Linked DNA regions of Homo sapiens. The protein of the gene in region 1 interacts with the protein of each later gene in a biochemical or structural test. Each region holds a gene or a part of one and is shown on either strand. Other genes may lie near its edges. The genes, in order: SRPK1, METTL14, UBE2E2, FAM76B, SEC23B, SETD3 and CDC42EP4.

The links.
Region 2: of the proteins of SRPK1 (region 1) and METTL14, one has a biochemical effect on the other in vitro, tested with the Homo sapiens proteins (one large-scale study listed by IntAct).
Region 3: of the proteins of SRPK1 (region 1) and UBE2E2, one has a biochemical effect on the other in vitro, tested with the Homo sapiens proteins (one large-scale study listed by BioGRID and IntAct).
Region 4: of the proteins of SRPK1 (region 1) and FAM76B, one has a biochemical effect on the other in vitro, tested with the Homo sapiens proteins (one large-scale study listed by BioGRID and IntAct).
Region 5: of the proteins of SRPK1 (region 1) and SEC23B, one has a biochemical effect on the other in vitro, tested with the Homo sapiens proteins (one large-scale study listed by BioGRID and IntAct).
Region 6: of the proteins of SRPK1 (region 1) and SETD3, one has a biochemical effect on the other in vitro, tested with the Homo sapiens proteins (one large-scale study listed by BioGRID and IntAct).
Region 7: of the proteins of SRPK1 (region 1) and CDC42EP4, one has a biochemical effect on the other in vitro, tested with the Homo sapiens proteins (one large-scale study listed by IntAct).

The regions. Positions count from the first base shown.
Region 1 is NC_000006.12:35,837,599-35,841,098, forward strand, and holds part of SRPK1 (SRSF protein kinase 1), read right to left. Parts: intron 832-3,500; coding exon 739-831; intron 1-738. UniProt on the Homo sapiens protein: Serine/arginine-rich protein-specific kinase which specifically phosphorylates its substrates at serine residues located in regions rich in arginine/serine dipeptides, known as RS domains and is involved in the phosphorylation of SR splicing factors and the regulation of splicing.
Region 2 is NC_000004.12:118,702,392-118,705,891, forward strand, and holds part of METTL14 (N(6)-adenosine-methyltransferase non-catalytic subunit METTL14), read left to right. Parts: intron 1-494; coding exon of another isoform or gene 495-544; intron 545-1,543; coding exon 1,544-1,660; intron 1,661-3,219; coding exon 3,220-3,430; intron 3,431-3,500. UniProt on the Homo sapiens protein: The METTL3-METTL14 heterodimer forms a N6-methyltransferase complex that methylates adenosine residues at the N(6) position of some mRNAs and regulates the circadian clock, differentiation of embryonic stem cells and cortical neurogenesis.
Region 3 is NC_000003.12:23,496,827-23,500,326, reverse strand, and holds part of UBE2E2 (ubiquitin-conjugating enzyme E2 E2), read right to left. Parts: intron 720-3,500; coding exon 587-719; intron 1-586.
Region 4 is NC_000011.10:95,768,453-95,770,617, forward strand, and holds the end of FAM76B (protein FAM76B), read right to left. Parts: 3' UTR 501-2,165; downstream 1-500. UniProt on the Homo sapiens protein: Negatively regulates the NF-kappa-B-mediated inflammatory pathway by preventing the translocation of HNRNPA2B1 from the nucleus to the cytoplasm.
Region 5 is NC_000020.11:18,552,940-18,556,439, reverse strand, and holds part of SEC23B (protein transport protein Sec23B), read right to left. Parts: intron 2,206-3,500; coding exon 2,050-2,205; intron 1,333-2,049; coding exon 1,267-1,332; intron 1-1,266. UniProt on the Homo sapiens protein: Component of the coat protein complex II (COPII) which promotes the formation of transport vesicles from the endoplasmic reticulum (ER).
Region 6 is NC_000014.9:99,460,360-99,463,859, reverse strand, and holds part of SETD3 (actin-histidine N-methyltransferase), read left to right. Parts: intron 1-281; coding exon 282-374; intron 375-2,519; coding exon 2,520-2,668; intron 2,669-3,500. UniProt on the Homo sapiens protein: Protein-histidine N-methyltransferase that specifically mediates 3-methylhistidine (tele-methylhistidine) methylation of actin at 'His-73'. Histidine methylation of actin is required for smooth muscle contraction of the laboring uterus during delivery.
Region 7 is NC_000017.11:73,285,563-73,288,001, reverse strand, and holds part of CDC42EP4 (cdc42 effector protein 4), read left to right. Parts: intron 1-1,389; 5' UTR 1,390-1,501; coding exon 1,502-2,439. UniProt on the Homo sapiens protein: Probably involved in the organization of the actin cytoskeleton. May act downstream of CDC42 to induce actin filament assembly leading to cell shape changes. Induces pseudopodia formation, when overexpressed in fibroblasts.

The DNA.
Region 1 (3,500 bases):
CCATGCTGGAGTGCAGTGGCAATCATGGCTCACTGCAGCCTTGACCTCCCAGGCTCAAGTGATCCTCCCACCCCAGCTTTCGGAGTAGCTGCGACCACAGGTGTGTACCACCATGCCCAGTTAATTAAAAATTTTTTTTTGTAGAGACAGGGTTTTCCTGTGCTGCCCAGGCTGGTCTTGAACTCCTAGACTCAAGTGATCCTCCTGCCTTGGACTCCCAAAGTGTTGGGATTACAGGCGTGAGCCACCATGCCTGGCTCCAGTCTCTGCTTTTTTTTTTTTTTTGTGAGACAGAGTTTCACTCTTGTTGCCCAGGCTGGAGGGCAATGGTGCGATCTTGGCTCACTGCAACCTCCGCCTCCCAGATTCAAGTGATTCTCCTGTCTCAGCCTCCTGAGTAGCTGGGATTACAGGCGCCCGCCACTCTTCCCAGCTAATTTTTTGTATTTTTAGTAGAGACGGGGTTTCACCGGGTTGGCCAGGCTGTTCTCAAACTCCTGATATTGTGATTCGCCCACCTTGGTCTCCCAAAGTGCTGGGATCACAGGTATGAGCCACCGCGCCCGGCTCAGTCTCTGCTCTTGACCACTTTTTTTACCTCTTTTTTATCTCTTTGCTAAGTCACAGGTTAGCATTCAAGGCAGGCCCATCATTCTGTAGGACATTGGGAATATGTGCTTACCTCTTCATTTTTAAACACTTCTGCCTCCTTAATGTCTGGGAACACATTTACTTTACCTTTTTTGGTGAAAAATTCCTTGGAATATTTTCCTGCCACAATGAGCTTGCGAGGCACCTTCCCCAGAAGTTCTATGATCAATGCAATGTGATCTGTATATTTCAAACATTTCAAGAGGGGGGAAAAAAAAGATCCGTAACAAGAGTAACAAATGCAGCTCTAGAAAACAGCAGAAGGAGCAGCATGCACATCTCTTTGTAAAGCCTATCAGGCTTACTTTCTATCCTAAATGGGAAGAGGAAGACTCTATCCATCTAATGGAGAATTCACAAAGTCAAATTTTTGTGGATTCAGTGATAACTAAAAACAATCTTGGTGTGAATGCTCTGCTTCCTGAAGTATCCCTGGGTCCTACATAACAATACTACCTCTGTGACTGAAGAAGTCTTGTGAATATTTCCCACTGAGGGAAAAGCGTCTTGGAATTCTGCCTATCAGCTCTATAATGTGCACAATGTGGTCTAAAATAGAAGGGTAAGAAGAACAGATCAAGGACAAGCTGTAAAAGAGGTTTTTCTATGAATAGCTTTTTCAAGGACTAGCTGTTTAAAAGTAACTACAAATAAAACCAAGGATACTGAAGGAAGACTGACTGGGAAGGCCAAGAATTATTTCAGGTGGTTGGTCACCCGATAGTGTCTGGCAAGTCCCATTCTGGATTTTGGAGGCTTATCTTCATCTTTAGTTCTATTTTGTCTATATATCTAGGTTCAGGTAGGTTCTTTAGGTAAGATAAAAAACTGTCCAAATATGTGTTAGGCATTCTAGAACTATTATTTGTGATCATTCTGTCTCAGCCTCCCCAGTGGCTGGGATTTCAGGCATGTGCCACCACACCTGGCTGACTTAAAACATTTTTTGTAGAGATGAGGTCTTGGCATACTGCCAAGCTGGTCTCAAACTCCTGGGCTCAAGCAATCCTCCTGCCTTGGCCTCCCGAAGTGTTGGGATTACAGGCCTGAGCCACCACCTGGCTGATACCCCATTTTAAAGATGAGAAAATAGAACTTCAAAAAGCATGAATGGCCTAACTTGAAACTTCAGGGCTAATATGAGCTAAAACTCAGATGAAAACCAATGATCTTATGTCTTGTCTAAAGCTTTTAATTTCTTCCTAAAATCACTTTTTAAAAGTAAAGATTAGCACAAACATTTTAAAGTATAGCTGCTTGATGATCTGTAAACATCACAGTATGAATATGGACCATGAGCACAACCAGGGAGGCATGCAGCCTCTTAACCAGGAGGTGAGTCTGGGACCAACCAGTACACACACCTCAGGTAGATCTACTGCCCCCCCCCTTTTTTTTTTCTCTCTGCAGGTGACAGAAGTTAAGAATATAAAACTTTTTTTTTTTTTTGAGATGGAGTCTTGCTCTGTCGCCAGGCTGGAGTGCAATGGCATGATCTCGGCTCACTGCAACCTCCACTTCCTGGGTTCCAGTGATTCTTGTGTCTCAGCCTCCTGAGTAGCTGGGATTACAGGTGCATACCACCAGGTCCAGCTAATTTTTGTATCTGTAGTAGAGACAGGGTTTCACATGTTGGCCAGGCTGGTCTCGAACTCCTGACTTCAAGTGATCTGCCGCCTTGGCCTCCCAAAATGCTGGGATTACAGGTGTGAGCCACTGTGCCTGGCCTGTATTTTTTGTAGAGATGGGGTTTTGCCATGTTGCCCAGGCTGGTCTCAAACTCCTGGGCTCAAGCGATCCACCCACCTCAGCCTCCTGAAGTGCTGGGATTACAGGCGTGAACCACCACACCCGGGCATAATACTCCTGGCCAGAAAAAAAGCTTTAGAAAATACTTTTATCGTGTAGTTACAGAATCATTAAGGTTTAAACTTCCAGTTATGTATCTTATAGGGGAAATAACATGCTAGAGACGTCCATATTATCTGGGAATTTGTGAAGGTTTCAGGTTTTATCTTTCTCATGTAAAGGAGTTAGTGGTGTCATTTAAAGGGGACTTCACATTTATGACTTCCCTACAACCTTTGAGCAGTTTTGACTGAATTTATGGTTTGGTAACAAGTACCTGCATGCCAAGAATTTTCTGCTGGTTTTTGGCAGGACCTGCAAATGTGTTTTTACCATTAACAATAACAAAAATAAGAATACTAAGGAAAAACTTAGACTATAATTTCTAAGAGAGCTTCTTAAAGTTCTTAGAAACTTAAGTAAACTTCCAAGTAAAATATTGGTCCTTTAAATATTTTTCCTATACCAAGGAATTCCCTTGAAATTGTTACTTTACACTTAATTCTTGCAACCTATTTTGGCTTATGATAGGATTGATATACTTGACAGATAAAATTATCAGGTATTATCCCATGAGTTAGGGCTGTGGAAAGCCAGAGTAGAGGACATGGTACTCAGGCTTCTGTCCTACCACGACTCGTAACAAACTATGCACACACTAGTCAGGGGTAAGGGTTTGCTTGTTCCTGCTCTTATAGGTCAAACTGCAGCAGAACAGCATCGGTGGGGCTGATGTTTGACCTAAGGACTATTAGTACTAACTGGTATAGGATGGAATAAATTAGAATTTAAACATCTAGGGAAGATGGTTTTTCCTTGTCCCCTTATTTGGGACTCTGCATATGTATTAAAATTTTCAGGTTTGGTAGCATAAGGTAACACCCGATATAATTCTAGCCACTATATGTGTTCTGTACCACACACTACCATTTATGGAGAATCTAGGGAAGTAAAGGGGAAAAAAATTAATTACCCTCCCAAACAAACATAGTAGGTAGTCT
Region 2 (3,500 bases), on another chromosome or scaffold:
GAATTTAGGTCATAGTGATGTTAATGACACCTGGTGCAAAATAAATATTTAGTAACAGGAACAGATATTGATCTTGATTTTGGAGATTTTAAAATAAAATTCTGCTGGGCGCAGTGGCTCATGTCTGTCATCCCAGCACTTTGAGAGACAGAGGCGGGCAGATCACTTGAGGCCAGGAGTTCAAGACCAGCCTGGCCAACATGGTGAAACCCCATCTCTACTAAAAATACAAAAATTAGCACAGCATGGTGGCACGTGCTTGTGGTCCCAGCCACTTGGGAAGCTGAGGCATGAGAATCACTTGAACCTGAGAGGCGGAGGTTGCAGTGAGCCAAGATTACCACACTGAACTCCAGCCTAGGTGAGACTCCATCTCAAAAAATAAAATAAAATAAAATTCTGAGTTTCATTTTGAGGTGTTATCTTACATTACCCAATAAGCATTCCTGAAAAGTGTATGTTTTATACTCTATCTTTTTTTTTTTTTGGTTCAGGGGGAACTCCCAACAGGATTTCCTGTGGTGGAAAGGAAGCTTGTTGGAAGGTTTTATTATTATTATTATTATTATTATTATTATTATTATTATACTTTAAGTTCTGGGATACATGTGCAGAACGTGCAGGTTTGTTACATAGGTATACATGTGCCATGGTGGTTTGCTGCACCCATCAACCCGTAATCTACATTAGGTATTTCTCCTAATGCTGTCCCTCCCCTAGCCCCCAACCTGCCTCTACTATATCTTGATATGTACTTGATCATCATACCAGCAATACTGTACTTATTTGTTTATTTTTCCCTCCTTTACTCTTAAAGTTGATGGGGATAGGGACTGTGTCTTATTCATGTTTTTATTTCCAGCAGCTAACCAGCACTGGCATATGGTAGACTTTCAGTTGTCACTGTGAGCAGTCATTTAGCTGGTATTTGTTTTATGTTAATGTATAACAGCTTCTAGGACATTAAGGTTCACATCTCTGTTTTCTAGATTATATAGAGATGAAAGTACCATTTTACCCAACAAAGAGATACACGTAACAATTTTAAGTTTGAACATTTTTACAGTTGTATTAAAAATAGAAATAAGATTTTATAAGACTCTCATTTGAAGTTAGCGTTTAGAAAATTTTCAATAGTATGTAGCTTTGTCAGAGAATAGAATATTGAGTTGGCAGGAATCAAATTGTGTTTTGGATTGTTTTGTGATTACAGAAGGTCTGAGTGCTTACAATTTAAAACCCCATGTCCATTGATGACAATAGAATGTAGAATTGGGAGATGATGTAATCCTTTCTATGTTTTGATATTTAACTATATATATGACATTGATATCCAAAAGATATATATGCATTCCGTATTATGGCTATGTATTTAAAGACTGGCATTTCTTTTTATATTCTACACTGAAACAAAATTACCTTGAAACCTTGGAATATAGTGTCTGAAACCTCTAGAAAGTTTTTTTTAATGCTGGTTGTTATTGTTAAGTATTGTTTATTTCTTTAAGTTAAGGATTTGTGTTTAAAATTCTTTTGTTTCTAGTGTTTACGAAAATGGGGTTACAGAAGATGTGAAGATATTTGTTGGATTAAAACCAATAAAAACAATCCTGGGAAGACTAAGACTTTAGATCCAAAGGCTGTCTTTCAGAGAACAAAGGTATTGCCTTTACTGATTTGTTTTTTTTAATTTTTGTGATTTTCTCTCAAGCTTTTCCAAATAACTGTATACTGTTTAATTAACTTCAGTGAAAAGGTCCTTTTCTTAGACTTGTAAAGACAGCATTGAGCATTACAGGAATACATCCAAATTAGTTTTAAAATGTTTTATTCATTATCTTAGATCAACCCCACCATGCTAGAAAGGGGAGTATATATTCCTCCATGTCCTAAATGCCATATTTCTAAGTTAGATAAAGGCTTTTGATCACACTCACCCGCAGAATTTTTCTAGGCTCAGAAAGAAGAGATAGCAAGATCGCAAGACTCGAGTTGGCCAGCTTAGAGACGTATTTCTCTCTTCTTTCCTTCTTTTTCCTTTACAAGAACCCCTGAGAACTTCTGTTTGTTGTGACTCTGCCCTGCTAGTATCAGGCTTTAACAGTTTTTGTTCTTACTTTTTAGGGAGCCTCTGGTGGGAGGGTCTTTCTTATTAAGTCTTTTTTGTACTGGAATCATGCCTAGGTAATGAAGCCTCCGTAAAATCCCAAGATGGGTTGGAGAGCTTCTGGGTTGGTGAACCTGTGGAGTTTCTGGGACGGTGGTCTGCTTGGAGAGGGCACAGCAGCTCCATGCCCCATGCCCCATGCCGCATACTTTTCATTATGTGTCTCTTCCATCTGGCTGTTTTTGAGTTGTATCCTTTTATAATAAATAGGTCATAGTAAGTAAAGAGCTTTCCTGAATTCCTCGAGCTGTTCTAGCAAATGATCTAACCTGAGGAAGAGGTCATGGGAACCTCTGATTTATAGCTGGTTGGTCAGAAGCACAGGTGACAATCTGGACTTGTGATTGGTATCTGAAGGTGGGGCATTCATGTGGTTCTCAGCCCTTGACCTGTGGGGTCTGCACTAACTAGGTAGATAGTGTCAGAATTGAATTGAATTATAGTGTTGATGGAGAAGTGGAGAATTGCTTGGTATGGGAAAAACCCACACATCTGGGATCAGAAGTGAAGTATTCTGAAAATACTGAGTGTTGTGAGTGCGTAGAAGAGTTTGTTTTTCTTATTTACATGGCAGTCTTTCCTCATCCAGAGATCCAGGTTTTCCTGTTGTTTTGTTGCCCATAGAACTGTATCTCACCAGAAATGGTGGCTCACTTCTGTAATCCCAGCACTTTGGGAGGCCGAGGTAGGTAGACCACTTGAGCCCAGGAATTTGAGACCAGCCTGAGCAACATGGCGAGACCCTGTCTTTACAAAAAATTTAAAAATCAGCCAGGTGTGGTGGTGTGTTCCTGTGGTCCCAGCTACTTGGGAGGCTGAGGCGGGGGATTGCTTGAGCCCAGGAGGTCAAGGCTGCAGTGAGCTGAGATCGTGCTACTGTACTCCAGCCTGGGTGACAGAGCGAGACCCAGTCTCAAAAAGAAGAGAAATAACTGTATCCCAAAGATTCCGAGAAATGAGGATTGTTTTAGAATTGAGGACATCAGAAATGTGAAAGGTTTTGGAATGACTGTTGATGAAAACAGATTAATTGGTCTGCTCTTGTTATTTAGGAACACTGCCTCATGGGGATCAAAGGAACTGTGAAGCGTAGCACAGACGGGGACTTCATTCATGCTAATGTTGACATTGACTTAATTATCACAGAAGAACCTGAAATTGGCAATATAGAAAAACCTGTAGAAATTTTTCATATAATTGAGCATTTTTGTCTTGGTAGAAGACGCCTTCATCTATTTGGAAGAGATAGTACAATTCGACCAGGTAGGACCTCAGTTAACAACAACTTTTATGATTCTTTGGGTTATGCATGTCAAGAAATAGGACATGGTGC
Region 3 (3,500 bases), on another chromosome or scaffold:
ATTGATTAGTTTCATTAATGAACTATTATAAATACTTTACGAAATTTTTTAACACAACTTTTAAGTCTCTGTGGGTCATACTTTCCATACTAGTCCATGTGTGCTACATGTGAGCAGCTGAACTCTAGAGGCACCAAAACTCAAACCTCCATAGCTGGTGCTATAAACCTTGCCTAGGCAAGGCTTCCTCTGCCTTTAGCCTGATTCTTGCGCTTAGCTTGCTTGGGCTCTGGCTCCAGGCTACGTCTGATTTTCTGGGCTCTGGTACTCACCCTGGCCCAACCTTATGCCCCCATTTTCACCCATAAAACATGGTGTTTTAATGTTACATTAAAACATATAACAAAGAAAGGAGATAATGAGGAGAAAAAGGAGGAGAAAAAAAACAATGAAATCAGTAAAAAGCTGGGGTGGAGGAATAACCTACAATTTTTTACATTGTTTCATTTTATACACTATCAATCCTGGGAAGCTGTCTGTGACAACAGAATAGACATGCATCCCTAGAATGCATATTTAAGAATAAGTATATGTATCTAGAAATATAATCCATATTGCTAAAAATCAATGAAAACTTCATACTGACCTTAGGGGGTTTAAACGGATAGTCTGGTGAAAAGGTAATGTCAAGAAAGAACACCCCTCCTTCATAGACAGATCCTGGGGGTCCCAATATAGTTGACCTCCATTCATAAATGTTGTCTCCTTTGGGTCCAGCACTGAAATAAGACATACAAATGAAATGTGCTTAGAAATTACATAAAGGCTGGAATTTAACAAAATCTATTTATGATAACCAATTGAGCAATTCCATAAAAACACAAAAAGTTAATCAGTTAACTCTCATGTTAAGATTCATATTGCCAATATTGTCATTATCCTAGAAGTGAAATATGTTGGTATCACTTCATAAAAGAACACCAAGATCCTCTTTTGCCATTCACAACCCTACGCCTATGGAACAAGAGTCCAAGGACTACAGGCCAGAGGTAGAAACACAAATGTTTAATGAAAGCATGAAATTATTTGTGATGTCAGAGACAAAATTTCAAAGTTAGAAGGACCTCTGGGGAATGACTAGTCTGATCCCTTTGCTAACAACTGAGAACACAAAGGAGGTTCAATGTTCATCATCCAAAGTCTCTGCTCAAATATCATATCCCATCTGAATCTTCCTTTCTTTCTCCCCACCCAAAGGACTTCCTGACCCATACATCATGACCAATGAGGTCTGTAGAGGATAAGATGTATCATTTTGTTTTATAACTGTGTTTTGCAACTAATGCTTCTTTCTACCCTCCCTAGAAGGTGCTTGAGGAACAGGTTGTACCTTGTCCTTAGTGCCTCTTAAGTCAGTATGTTGGATGATGATGAATTAATAACAAAGCAAGTGAAGAAGCCACATGGCTACTAGCAGTACACATGTCTCTGAGTTTCAGAGAATTTTGCTGAAAACAATATGGCCCACATGAGTCGAGTGAATTGTATTAGTTCTCTCAGGTGAAAAGAAGGGCAAAATGAGATTAGGATTTAGCTAATCCTAAGAATGGGCTCAAGCCATTCTTGGGTCTCAGCCTCTCAAGTAGCTGGGTTTACAGGCATGCATCACTGGACCACACCTGGCCCCTAGAAAATGTATTTTTAAATGAGTTGCAATAGGTCTTGTAGGGAAGCTATGAATAAAGTCATAAAAGATGTGTAAGATCTTTATGGAGAAAATTATATAAAACTTATTGAAAAGTACTCATAAGAGTTAAATAAATGGAGGGAGATACCAAGTTTATGGGTAGGGAGACCTGATATCAAATGTCAGTTTCTCCAAATTGATTCATCATAATTCCAATTAAAAAGTCCAACTGCTTTTTAAAACCAAAACTCGACAAGTTGATTTTAAAATTTTTTCGGAAGCTCAAAGAAATTCCTCAAACTTTTCCACACATATATGAAAACCTGATTTATGTCAACTGATGGGACTAGGAAAAGTTTTTATATTTGAAAAACAGAGAAACTGGATTTTTACCCTCAGTAAATAAACAAATGCTGTTGCAGATGGATTAAATATTTAAATGCAAAAGTCAAAATATTAGAGTTTGACTGAAGAGAGTGACAAGGCAAGCTGCAAACAGAAAAGATATTTGGATCATATAAAAGTGACCAAATACTAGTGTTGAGAATACACAAGTTCCTAAGAATCAACTAAAAAAAGACTCTATTAAAAAAGACATAGACATTTCCAAAAAAAGGGAAACATAAATGGCCAATAATCATATGAAAAATGCTCAATATCATCAAAATCGGGGAAATGAAACTGAAAATCAAAATTCAGTAATATTATTTTACAAAATGCAAATGCAAAAATCAATGCCTGACAAAACCACATGTTGATGAGGATGTGGAAAAACTAGAACTCCTATGTACTGCTGATGAGTATGAGTAATTCCTTCGGATGAGAATATAGGCTCATCTAGTTAAGTTGAATATACAGTTGACCCCTGAACAACAGGGTCTGCATTGCGTGGGTCAACTTAGATGAACTAAATTTCAAGAAAATACATTAGAAAAATTTGAGATTTGTGACAATTTGAAAAAACTCGCTGACAACGCACTAGCCTAGAAATATTGAAAAATTAAGAAAAAGGAACGTCATGAGTGCACAAAATATACACAGATATTAGTTTTTCTTATTTACTACCAGAAAATATATACCGATCTCTTACAAAGTTAAAATTATACCCACAAACCATACATGATGCCATGAGCATTTTAAAAGAAATGTAAGCAAACACAAACATAGAGTATTAAATCATAACTGCATAAAAGTAACTATAATACATACTGTACTACTGTAATAATTTTGTAGCCACCTCCTGTTGCTATTGCAATGAACTCAGCTATTGCCAATAGCTGCTTAAAATGCCTAAAATGCCACGTGACAAAAATCATCTCTGCATGAGCAGTTCATCTCTCCAGCAAATTGCGTATTGCCATAAAAAGTGCTCTCTCTCAGTTCTCGCATATTTTTCATTGTGTTTGTGCAATACCGTAAACCTTAAATAACACCATGGGATCCATACGAAGGGCCACTAGTGATTCTGGAAGTAGTCCCAAGAAGCAGAGAAAAGTCATGCCATTACAAGAAAAAGTTGAATTACTTGATATACACTGTAGATTGAGGTCTGTAGTTGTGGTTAGCTGCCATTTCACCTTGTAAACAGATGATGTAAACTCAGGGTAACAATAAACACGGTACAATACTGTAAATGCATTTTCTCTTCCTTATGACTTTCTTAATATTTTCTTTTTTCTAGCTTACTTTATTGTAAGAATACAGCATATATACATATAACATGCAAAATATGTATTAATTGAAATGTTTATGTTATGAGTAAGGCTTCTTGTCAAAAGTAGGGTATTATTAGTAGTTAAATTTGGAGAAAGTCAAACATTATACATGAATTTTTGATGGCACAGGGGGCTGGTACCTCTAAACCCTGAGTTGT
Region 4 (2,165 bases), on another chromosome or scaffold:
GTAGGCTCAATAATGGTCCCCCAATATGTCCATGCCCGAACCCTTGGAACCAGTGAATACATTACCTTATATGACAATAGGGACTTTGCAGATGTGACTAGGTTAAGAACTCGAGATGGAAAAACTACGTTGTTTGTGCAGGTGGAGCCAATAATGTTCTCATAAGGTCCTTATGAGAGGGAACAGAGGGAGACACTCTGAGAAGGTATGATGACAGCAGCAGAGAGAGATTTGAGATGCTACAATTTGGGCTTTGAAGATAAAGGTCAATGAGCTCATAGCATGCAAGGAATGCAGCTCTAGAAGCTGGAAAAGGCAAGAAAACAGATTTTCCCCTACAGCCTCCAGAAAGAAGCAATCCTGCCAATACCTTGACTTTAGACCAGTAAACCTGATTTTGGACTTCTGGCCTCCAGAACCATAAAAGAATTAATTTTTGTTGTATTAAGACACTAAGTGTGTGGGAGTTTGTTACAGCAGCCATTGAAAACTAATACAAAGCCTTTGACAAGTTTTTTATTGTGAAATATTGGATCTAGAAAAAAGTACAAAATGTCAACAGTCAGATGTGTACAAGTACAGTATTTCAATAGTCTATACATGTGAACAGCTTAACAGGTTCACTGCAGAATGCATATTTAGACCAATATAATCTAAAAAGGACTGCAATATTCACAGGCTATTAATACATAAATAACTTGAGTCAAAATGACCCTTACTGGTAAATGCTAATTAATAGTGGAAAACAGGCTAAAAGCACAATACACCACACCATAGTATCTCCTTACAGGTCCACATTTAAAGAATATCAGTTTATTATGTCAAAACACTACAGAGATCCAGGACTGGGACTGAATTACTAATTTATACAATTGCAAAAAAATTTAAGTTATAAAATAAGGTCATGGAATAAAGAAGGGTATTTAATTAGGACTAAATACTGTGAAGCCCATGAAAGGGTTTTAGCCTTGGAATTTACAAAGCTAAATTATTAGACTGTTAATGTTAGCTAACACTAAAACTGAATTACCTTCCATTTTAATGTTAGCTAATATTAATATTCAACTTTTTAATTTTGATGTTAGCTAAGGGGAAGGACGAGGACAACTTTCTTTTGTAGTTTCTCCAACAAGGTGTAAGAACTATCAAAAAGTAAAACCATAATGACCACTGTGGACTGACAAATGGCTATGAAACAAGAATATAAAACATTACAAATTTCAAAGAAAGGTAATAACTATCTTATGAATTTAGCAAATCCTGCAAACGTTAAAATCCATGTTAAGGCATTATCTATCATGGTTGAGAGTACTAAATTTAAGAAAATTATTACATGAAGATCCCATAAAAATAAACTGGTTTAGTTTACAAGATTCTAACTGAATCTTTTTGTATCACTTGAAAATTACCCTATATTATGCTTTCAAAATGGACAAAGAATTATTTGGTATTCACTTTATAATGAACTATGAGAACAGTCTATTGAAACACGTCATGTTAAAAAAAAATTGTTTCAATCATGTGTTCTTAAGAAAGCCAATCTTTGATATGACATTCACAATCAATGCTTGTATAAAACAAAACCTTTAAAACTTATAAATTTAGTAACAGTTTTACATGAAGCAAATTTATCTTTGCCCATAAATTATTAAGAGAAGCAACTCACTCTATACAGTGTATCTAGCAATACTTTAAAATCAAACTAAAACTCTGAACTGATAATAACTAGGAGATAAATTCTATTTCAGGCTGAAAACCGCTGGATCAGAATATAGTCAATAACTTCATATAACCTATCCCACCCTACCTTAACCTTTTATAGACAATTTTAAAGACTTTAGGACAATTTACTTATAATGCCTGAATCTTATAGTAGATTCCAATTTATTCAAAGATTATCACAGATTGGATTAAAAAGATCATTTAATTTTTTTCAGATTTGCTTTAAATTTACAAATTACATTGTACATAAATATTAACTTAGATAACCACACATAGGGAAAGCAGATACATGGATCATTGCAGAAACATTAAAATTTTTAAAAAATTTTATAAAATATAAAGCAAAACATGTAACTCACACAATACTAATATGAAGCCACATGACATAAAAAATAAAATTACTCTTTAAGAAGCAACTTAAAATTAAATCTTTGGGGAACTAT
Region 5 (3,500 bases), on another chromosome or scaffold:
AAACATACCAAAGTCAATTGTATTTCTATATACAGTCATCCCTCAGTATCTGTGGGGGAATGGTTTTAGGACCTCCTGTGGATCCCCAAATCCACAAATGCTCAAGTCCCTAATACAAAATGGTGTAGCATTTGCATATAACCTATGCATACCCTCCCATACACTTTAAATCAGGGGTCCCCAACTGCAGGCCACGGATAGTACCAGTCCTTGGCCTGTTAGGAACCAGGCCACACACCAGGTGAGTGGCAGGTAAGTAAGTGAAGCTTCATTTGTATTTACAGCTGCTCCCCCATCACGTGCATTACCACCTGAGCTCCACCTCCCATCAGATCAGTAGCAGTATTAGATTCTAATAGGAGTGCAAACCCTATTGTGAACAACGCATGTGAGGGATCTAGGTTGCATGCTCCTCATGAGAATCTAATGCCTGATGATCTGTCACCGTCTCCCGTCACCCCCAGCTGGGACCATCTAGTTGCAGGAAAACAAGCTCAGGGCTCCCACTGATTCTACATTATGGTGAGTTGTACAATTATTTCATTATATATTACAATGTAACAATAATAGAAATAAAGTGCATAAGTGTGGTGATGGAAATGCTGCACATCTTGACCTTAAAAATCTCAATATCCCGGTTGTGATACTGTATTATAGTTTTTGCAAGATGTTAACACTAAGGGAAAATGGGTAAAAGATACAGGTGATCTCTCTGTATTATTTCTTACAACTATATGTAAATTTACAATATCTCAAAAAAATTTAATTTAAAAATGTTTTAAGAAAACAGAATGAAAGGAAAGACTCATCTGAGAGAGACATAAATGCTGGGAGCAGTTAGATAAAGTAGTAATCAGGCGGGGTTGGGGGAAGAAAAGGGAAGGAATTAGGCTGGAAAGTGAGGAGGCGGCAAAACCGATGGTGACAAGTTGCCCTGTATTCTTGGTGGGGAGAGGACTAGGGGCCATGAGGCTGTGTGACGGAGGACACCACCATGGAGGCCACAGTACAGTGCTCTGTCCCCTGGCCTGAACCTGGTATGTTCTGCTGTATATTGTGGAAGGGGACACACCCAGGGAGCCCCCTCAACCTCCGGCCCAGTAATGTTATTCAACTTGTTTCCCTCCCCGCCACTCCCCAGCAAAATACCCAACTTACGCAGTTATTCTGTCTCCAGGCCAAAAGAGATCCAATTTGTAGAATTTTAAAACAAGTTTAAAAAAAAACTAGCTTAGCATCCTCCCCAAATACCTGAAGATTTCTTACCTGTCCCCAAGCATACAGGTTATTGTGTGTCTGAGATGGGTTCACTTTGGACAAAAGGAATCGAGCCTTTAACAACAACAACAACAAAAAGATTTAAAGATTAAAAAGTGACATTAATATTAATGTAACAGAAAAAAGATAAGTTTTTACAACATTTGTTTGGTTAAATTAGAATTGTTTTACTGCACAGTAATCTAATTAGAATTGTTTTACTGCACAGTAATCTATTTCTTTAGCTTAAGCCCACTGGCTCTCCATTTAAGGATCCTAAAACATAAAATATGTATTTTATCTTGGCAATCCCTTTACATAAGCACATTTTGACCACTCATTTTTTTTTTTTTTTTGAGACGGAGTCTCACTCTGTAGCCCCAGCTGGAGTGCAGTGGCACGATCTCAGCTCACTGCAAGCTCTGCCTCCCGGGTTCACGCCATTCTTCTGCCTCAGCCTCCCGAATAGCTGGGACTACAGGTGCCCGCCACCACGCCCAGCTAATTTTTTGTATTTTTAGTAGAGACGGGGTTTCACCATGTTAGCCAGGATGGTCTCGATCTCCTGACCTCATGATCCGCCCGCCTCGGCCTCCCAAAGTGCTGGGATTACAGGTGTGAGCCACCGCGCTTGGCCTGACCACTCATTTAAAAAGAAGTCATATTTGGAAGATTACCTGTGTGTCAATTTATGTCATCACATAAAATATTAACCATCCTGTTTAGATGTATAGCAATAACAATCTATCATAAAACGAACAAACCACTGGAGTTAGAACTCAGCTCACTCACCTGACTGCCTCCATGCTCCGTGTTGATGTAACGTGGCATCGGGAAGCGTGCTTGCAGAATTTCTTGAGCATCATCCAGTGGTGCCTGCAGAAGGTGCTTGAAGTTTTCATACTCGGGCATGTCCTGGTAGCCAGCTTTACGCCACTGGGCTATGGTCTACACAGAAACAAACCAACCAAAACTATTGTGGAAACTGTAATAACAGCCTTCACTGACACTGACATTCTACCATCGCCACCCAGAGCTTGTTTCTAGTGAAGAAGTCTAATATCAAAAATGACAAGCTTCAGAGGGAGAGCAAAGCAGAGCTACCGGCAGGAGGAGAAGCAGGAGGAAAATGCCCCCGCCTGCGCATTCCCCCAGGAATGTCAGGCGTCACTCATGCCTCCTCTCTTCTATATCAACTAGTTAACAAAGCCCATGGATTACTCATCCCAAGGAGCGGTGGACTCCCTCCTTTTCCACTTCCACTGTTATCACTCAGTCTAGCCTCTCATCTCCGCACATCTGGTAAGGAAAGGGATTTGTTGGCTGCCCACACAGACTCCACTCCCCCATCTCCTTTCCTAACGGCACACATATTACACTCCTCTGGTGAGCAGTAGTCATACAGACTTGCGTGCAATTGTCTCACCCCCATCCCCTGCTCCCCCTGGGCCCTGAATTGGGGTACCCTTGGCAAAGGAGACAAAAGCTGTAAGAATCAAAGTATGAGTGTTGATGAGGCAGTGAGGAGAAGCCATATGCTAAACTGTGGAAAGCAGACGATCTGTCTCCCTGACTACGCTACACATTTTATCACCCTTCCTTCTTTTATACTCATCCACAACTGGTCTAGAAAATATCTTGTATACACAGGAAATCAAGAAACATTCATTAACTGATTCATATACCTTTATAAATAAAGTGAAGTGCTTTCGCATGTTATTTAGGAGAACAAGAAGACAATGGAGAGGAAAAATGGAGAAAGAGGCTACAGCAAGTGTGCAATGTGTCTTAACAGAGCCATTAATATGGCTCCAGGCAGAGGATTCTCATCAGATGCCTCCTTCTGTAGCCTGCTCACTCCTTCTCAAAGTAGCAGTTACCGTTTTCCAGGTCTAAATGCTGTGATTGACTGTTGGCCTATGGGAAATGCCCACGAGCTCACCAGGGTCCAGAAGTTCATAAGAACACTCGCGTTCAGCACGCTCAGGACTTTGGGAAGGTGAGAGCAATGTCACTGTCTTTATCCTTAGAACCCCTCACTTGCACAAGAAGGTGCTCAATAAACAAGTGAATGAACAGGATCAGGGGTTGCAAAAGAAATGTCGATAAGGAGATGAGCTTAAGGCAAAGAAAGCTTCATCCTTAGTACAGTCGGCCCTCGGTATCTGTGAGATTGGTTCCAAGACCACTCCTCCCAATACCAAATTCCATAGATACTCAAGTCCCTCATACAAAATGGCATA
Region 6 (3,500 bases), on another chromosome or scaffold:
ACTAAGAATAAGGTGGATGTGAGCTAGGTGCTTGCTCAGTGCTCTCTCTTGGGTACGTTAAGTGGGGGATGTTTTTATGATGCCCCAGGGTTTGTCTGCTTTGAGAAGTGTACCTGCCTTGTACTTCTCACATTCATTATCATGGCTGTCATATGTCTGTCTTTTAAAAATAAACCAACCCCAGAACAGCAACAACAAAGTCCAAATCCTCTTTCTTGTGCAGACTAGTAGGTTAAGTTGAAAGAGAGAAGTGTTTCAGTACCATGCCTCTTATGTTACAGAATGCAGCAGTCCGGCGCCTGGCCCAGGAAAAGAGTGGGAAGAGTATGTGCAGATCCGGACTCTGGTTGAGAAAATACGGAAAAAGCAAAAAGGTAAAATTGCTAGAATGATAACTGTATTTTAATAATGTCATGTAGAAACTTGATTAGGTCAAAGGGTTGACGAGTAGTAAAGGTCTCAGCATCATTGGTGTCACTCTGAAAGGTCTTGTACTGGGGCTTGCAGACCGGGAGAGAGAGCAGTTAGCGGGATTTCTCCCCTTTCTGAGATGCTATTACCTGCTTCGGAAAGGGTGAGAATGTTGAGCTTTAGGAGAATAAAATGTTTGTATCTGGGTGCTAAAATGATACAATTTTATTTATTTACATTTTATAAAGTATTATACCGTTATTTCCTTTTGAGTTTCAGGACAGTGCATATAGTGTATATCGTCAATAACAAATAAATGCTGATTGGTTAATGCATTAGCAAGGTTTATAATGAACTCACACACATCTCAGTTAAATAAGAGGTGTGGTCATATTCCTTAAGCTGTGTTTTTACAGGACGTATGCAGTCGCCATTGTAATGATTCTCATCCAGGCTGGCGTGGGGCTAAGTGTGAGTTTGAAAAAGCTCATTCACTATACCTATTGTTTTTGTTCTGTAAAGCACAAAAAGTAAAGATTATTATGCAGGACCACATGGAAGGTAGAAGCAGAAAACATCCTAAGGAGCATGCATTGGAATGTGGGGCCCTTTCTTATTGTCATGAAGGGCCTCAGGAGAGGGTTTGTTTTTTATTTGCTCTCTTTAAGTAGTGGTTTTATTGCTCTTCCATACACATCTCTAAACATGTAGTCTTCAGTTTAGATGGTCTCAGACTCCAAAATGGTGAGTTCATAATGGGTGTTTTCAAACAGGTTCCTTCATAATGGGTTTATTTGCACTAAATAGGAGTCTGTGCTAATCCTTTGTCACCAAGTGGGTAGCGCCTTAGTTTCTCTTCTGCGTAGATACTGTTTACTATACCTGACACTGAGGGTAAAGCATTTGCCAGTTCTCAAGGAGTGAATAGGAAGTTCCGTCTTTGAATATTCCTCATTCTGGTCATTTTCGCCATTTAGCAGGTATCTTCGCATATCCAGCATGCCCTCTTCACATATCAGGTTGACTGTTAATTATGCTGTGGTAAGATGGCCACAGGCGCCTGAGCTATGTGCCACACCCAGCTTCCTCATAGTAAAGTTCCTGTTCCCCTCCTTTTATTCATCCAAACAGAATAGTTTTTTCTATGCATGTCTTTTCATCTTTTTGACTACATAGGACATGCTGAAAAGTTCAGAAATTAATATAACAGATGTCCAAGAATCTGCTACCCCAGCTGAGCACATGTCAAAGTTGTATTCTCATTGTCCTTTCTTTTATTCTCACCCACTGATCAGCTTTCCTTTCCCTTCCTCAGCCCTTGGTTTTGTTTTTGTATTTGTTTTTAAGAAATAAAACATCACAGATACAGCCAAAGCCTCACATTTTCATCCCCTTCCATTCCCTCCCTCCTTGCAGGGTGTTCATCTTCACTGTGAATGTTTTCTACTTCATAAATAACCCCATAAAAATATATGGTTGTAATTGATATTTGAAAAATTTACATAAATGGTGTCATATTACGTGATTTTTTAAAAGCCACTGTGGTACATTTAGTGTTATACTTATGTTGATACACATAGCTCTAGCTCATTTAAATTGCCTTACAGCCTTCTGGCTTACAGCTCTACAGTTTTGTGTTCTTAGAATCAGGGCTGTGGGGCTCATCCTTTCCCATGTCTCCTTGTGCACATACGCGAGCTACTCATTTTTGTTTTAATGGAAATTTTGTTAAAGCAAATGTGAACATGAGAGGTGGCATGTTTGACTTTTAAGGAGAAAACTGCTCTGTAAATCATAGTAGTGGTAATAGAAGCTCTCTGCCCTTTGCCATCGTATTACCTAATAGTACCTAATAGTCAATATTTATATTACCTAGTGTCAGTATATATTTCACTGTAACTGACAGGGAGTTTAGGATTTTAATTCTTCTTCCCTGTCACCAGTTAAGGTATGTACTGTGACCATCTGGTGATTAGTTTTGATTTCAAGATTGGCGTGTTAAGACTATTTCCAGTGTTAGTTATGGCCTGTTTTTATTTTCTGAGAGACGTGTGAATGATATGTGTCCTAAAAGTAGCTCTTGTTTTCTAAAACGTGGATTAATATAGGTCTGTCCGTTACTTTTGATGGAAAAAGAGAAGATTACTTTCCTGATCTAATGAAATGGGCCTCTGAAAATGGGGCTTCTGTCGAGGGTTTTGAAATGGTTAACTTCAAAGAAGAGGGCTTTGGTTTGAGAGCAACAAGAGATATCAAGGTGAGTTTATAAAATGTTGGTCTCAAGGGGTCTATGTGTTTGAACTGTGGTGTGCTGTAGAGGGCGCAGGGTGAAGAGGTAGACGTGTGGTGGGGGAGTTCTAGTTCTGAGCCTGTGGGCAGATAGGCAGCCTGGAAGGGCCTTGGGCTCATGTTCTAAGCAGCTCCTCCCACCTTATCCTCCTGGGGAGCCAAGTTGCTAATCAGTGACTGGGGCAAGTCAGTTCACATTTCTGAGCCTCTGTTAGGAGACCATAGAACATGCCTCACAGGATTTTGAGATTTACCTAAAGATAAGGAGGTGGACTCATGGTTTGGATTTTGTAACTTACTGGAGGTGAGTGGGTGGAGGACTGGCGGTGTGGGTATGCCTACTAGTGTCTGAAATGGATGACTATGAGGCTGAAGGTACTAGGAGCTCACTGAAATGGCAATACCAGTGGCAATAGGGAGAGGAGAGAGAAACAGCCACCTACTAAGGAAGAAGGGCTTTTTCTCCCCTCTTGGTTCTTGGTTCTTCTTTCCACATGAAGGGAGCAGCAGTCACTGGCCATGCCTGGCCTCTTCTCACCCCTCACTCATGTCTCTTCTAAGAGGAGGCACTCCTTCATCTGTTGGCCAAGTTTGGGAGAAGGAACTGGACTTGGCCTTTTTCTCGATGGGAGCTAGTTGCCCGTATGCATTCATTCCACTCTGCTCTCTGCCCTGGAAGCTTTGCAGGGGCAGGCCACATGTGGGGAGGGCGGTGGGGATCCAGCTCTGCCTGTAACTAGGTGGGGGAGTCTGTCTAATTCTGGGATTCAGTAGGTGATATTTTGGGTGACCATCTGTTG
Region 7 (2,439 bases), on another chromosome or scaffold:
ACTGAGGAGCGAGGTGGGGACTAGTCATTGGATCAAGGGGTCTGCACTGGGTAGGGCGTCATGTGGATGGGTTTTGTTTTAGCCAAGAGGTGAAGGATGGACAGGAGGGAGACCAACAGGGAGACCTGTCAGGCTGATGTCAGGGGCCAGGTGGGGTGTGGTGGGCTTGTGTGACGCAGCGGCAGGCATGCGGAGGAAGCACCCAGCATCTGAGTTTTGCAGTGGGAAGAGTGGGTCTGGACTGGGGGTGCCTCTCAGAACTGTGCTGCTGGCTGGACTGGGAGGCAGGCAGGTACCTGGTGTCCAAGCATCACCTCTCACCCACCATACTTTGTTAAATCCCTGCACCCATCTCTCCCCAACCTGCCCAGCTCTGCTGGGCTTAGTATTTGGGGCAAGCCCCTCTAGGGAAGAGAGGGGCTGGTTTGGCCCCAATGCTGAACTTCAACTTGGCCCTTGTCAGGAGCTGTGAGAGTGGTGCCTCCAGGCTCCTGGGCTCTACCTCTGCTGTTTTTTGGATTTCTGGTGAATCACCTAGGAATCAGTCTGCAGATCCTGGGGGGACGAAGTCATTTAGGGTCCAGTCCCTGCCTCCCACTCCCCTAATGATGAAAGAAACTGGAAGTTGCCCAATCTTGATCTCCCCGAGACACCAGAAGGTGGACCCTCAGCAAAGAGCCTGGGGCTCCACAGTGGAGACGTCACAGGCGGGATCCTCATTTATGGGATACCAAGCGAAGGCTGAAAGGCTGGGGAGCTGGTTCTGTGGGTCCCAGCAGCCCCACCCCAGTTCTGATTCAGAAAGAGGACTGTGCCGCCCACGCAGGGGGAGGAGCTGGTCAGCCTCTGTCTCCCTGAGCCCGTCCTGTCCTTTCCCTTCTCTCTCTGAGGACCAGGACTCAGGGTGGGGTGTCCACTAACTCCACAGGGATCGAGGTTAGACAGCAGGAAGAACTTACAGCACATCTCCAGGCTGACTGTTCATAGGAGCCAACTCATAGACTCCATCTCTTCCCTGGCTTGCTGCCTGGAATTGCTGGATTTACCTTCGCGTCCTTAAATGTGGTCATGTTTACTCTGGCAGCATCCTGGCTTGCAGGGGCAGGGGAGGCATTGTCTTCTGCAAGAAAGGTTCTGTCTCTCTCAAGTTTCAGGGAAAGTGTGTCCGAGGCTACTGGAACTCTAACCAGATTTGCAAAATCACTCCTCTACTCTGAATGCCTGCGGATGAAGAAACAGGCAGGGTTATACCATGGATTGCTGGCTTATTTCACAGCATTTAACTTTGGTAGGAGCGCTGGGGTTTAAATGACAGTCCCCTGGCAAAGAGGCTTTTGTGCCGTGTGGCCAGCCCGCGTTAATCCTTTGCCTCTCATTCTCTGCTTGCAGCCTTATGATCTCCTCATTGCGTCCCCCTCTGCCCACTGGACTTGGACTTCAGATCTGACCCCAGACCTGCCGGCTACCTCGGGAGGGCCCACCTCCCCGCCCATCCAGCAAGATGCCAATCCTCAAGCAACTGGTGTCCAGCTCGGTGCACTCCAAGCGCCGTTCCCGAGCGGACCTCACGGCCGAGATGATCAGCGCCCCGCTGGGCGACTTCCGCCACACCATGCACGTTGGCCGGGCCGGAGACGCCTTTGGGGACACCTCCTTCCTCAATAGCAAGGCTGGCGAGCCCGACGGCGAGTCCTTGGACGAACAGCCCTCTTCTTCATCTTCCAAACGCAGTCTCCTGTCCAGGAAGTTCCGGGGCAGCAAGCGGTCACAGTCGGTGACCAGGGGGGAGCGGGAGCAGCGTGACATGCTGGGCTCCCTGCGGGACTCGGCCCTGTTTGTCAAGAATGCCATGTCCCTGCCCCAGCTCAATGAGAAGGAGGCCGCGGAGAAGGGCACCAGTAAGCTGCCCAAGAGCCTGTCATCCAGCCCCGTGAAGAAGGCCAATGACGGGGAGGGCGGCGATGAGGAGGCGGGCACGGAGGAGGCAGTGCCCCGTCGGAATGGGGCCGCGGGTCCACATTCCCCTGACCCCCTCCTCGATGAGCAGGCCTTTGGGGATCTGACAGATCTGCCTGTCGTGCCCAAGGCCACGTACGGGCTGAAGCATGCGGAGTCCATCATGTCCTTCCACATCGACCTGGGGCCCTCCATGCTGGGTGACGTCCTCAGCATCATGGACAAGGAGGAGTGGGACCCCGAGGAGGGGGAGGGTGGTTACCATGGCGATGAGGGCGCCGCTGGCACCATCACCCAGGCTCCCCCGTACGCCGTGGCGGCCCCTCCCCTGGCAAGGCAGGAAGGCAAGGCTGGCCCAGACTTGCCCTCCCTCCCCTCCCATGCTCTGGAGGATGAGGGGTGGGCAGCAGCGGCCCCCAGCCCCGGCTCAGCCCGCAGCATGGGCAGCCACACCACACGGGACAGCAGCTCCCTCTCCAGCTG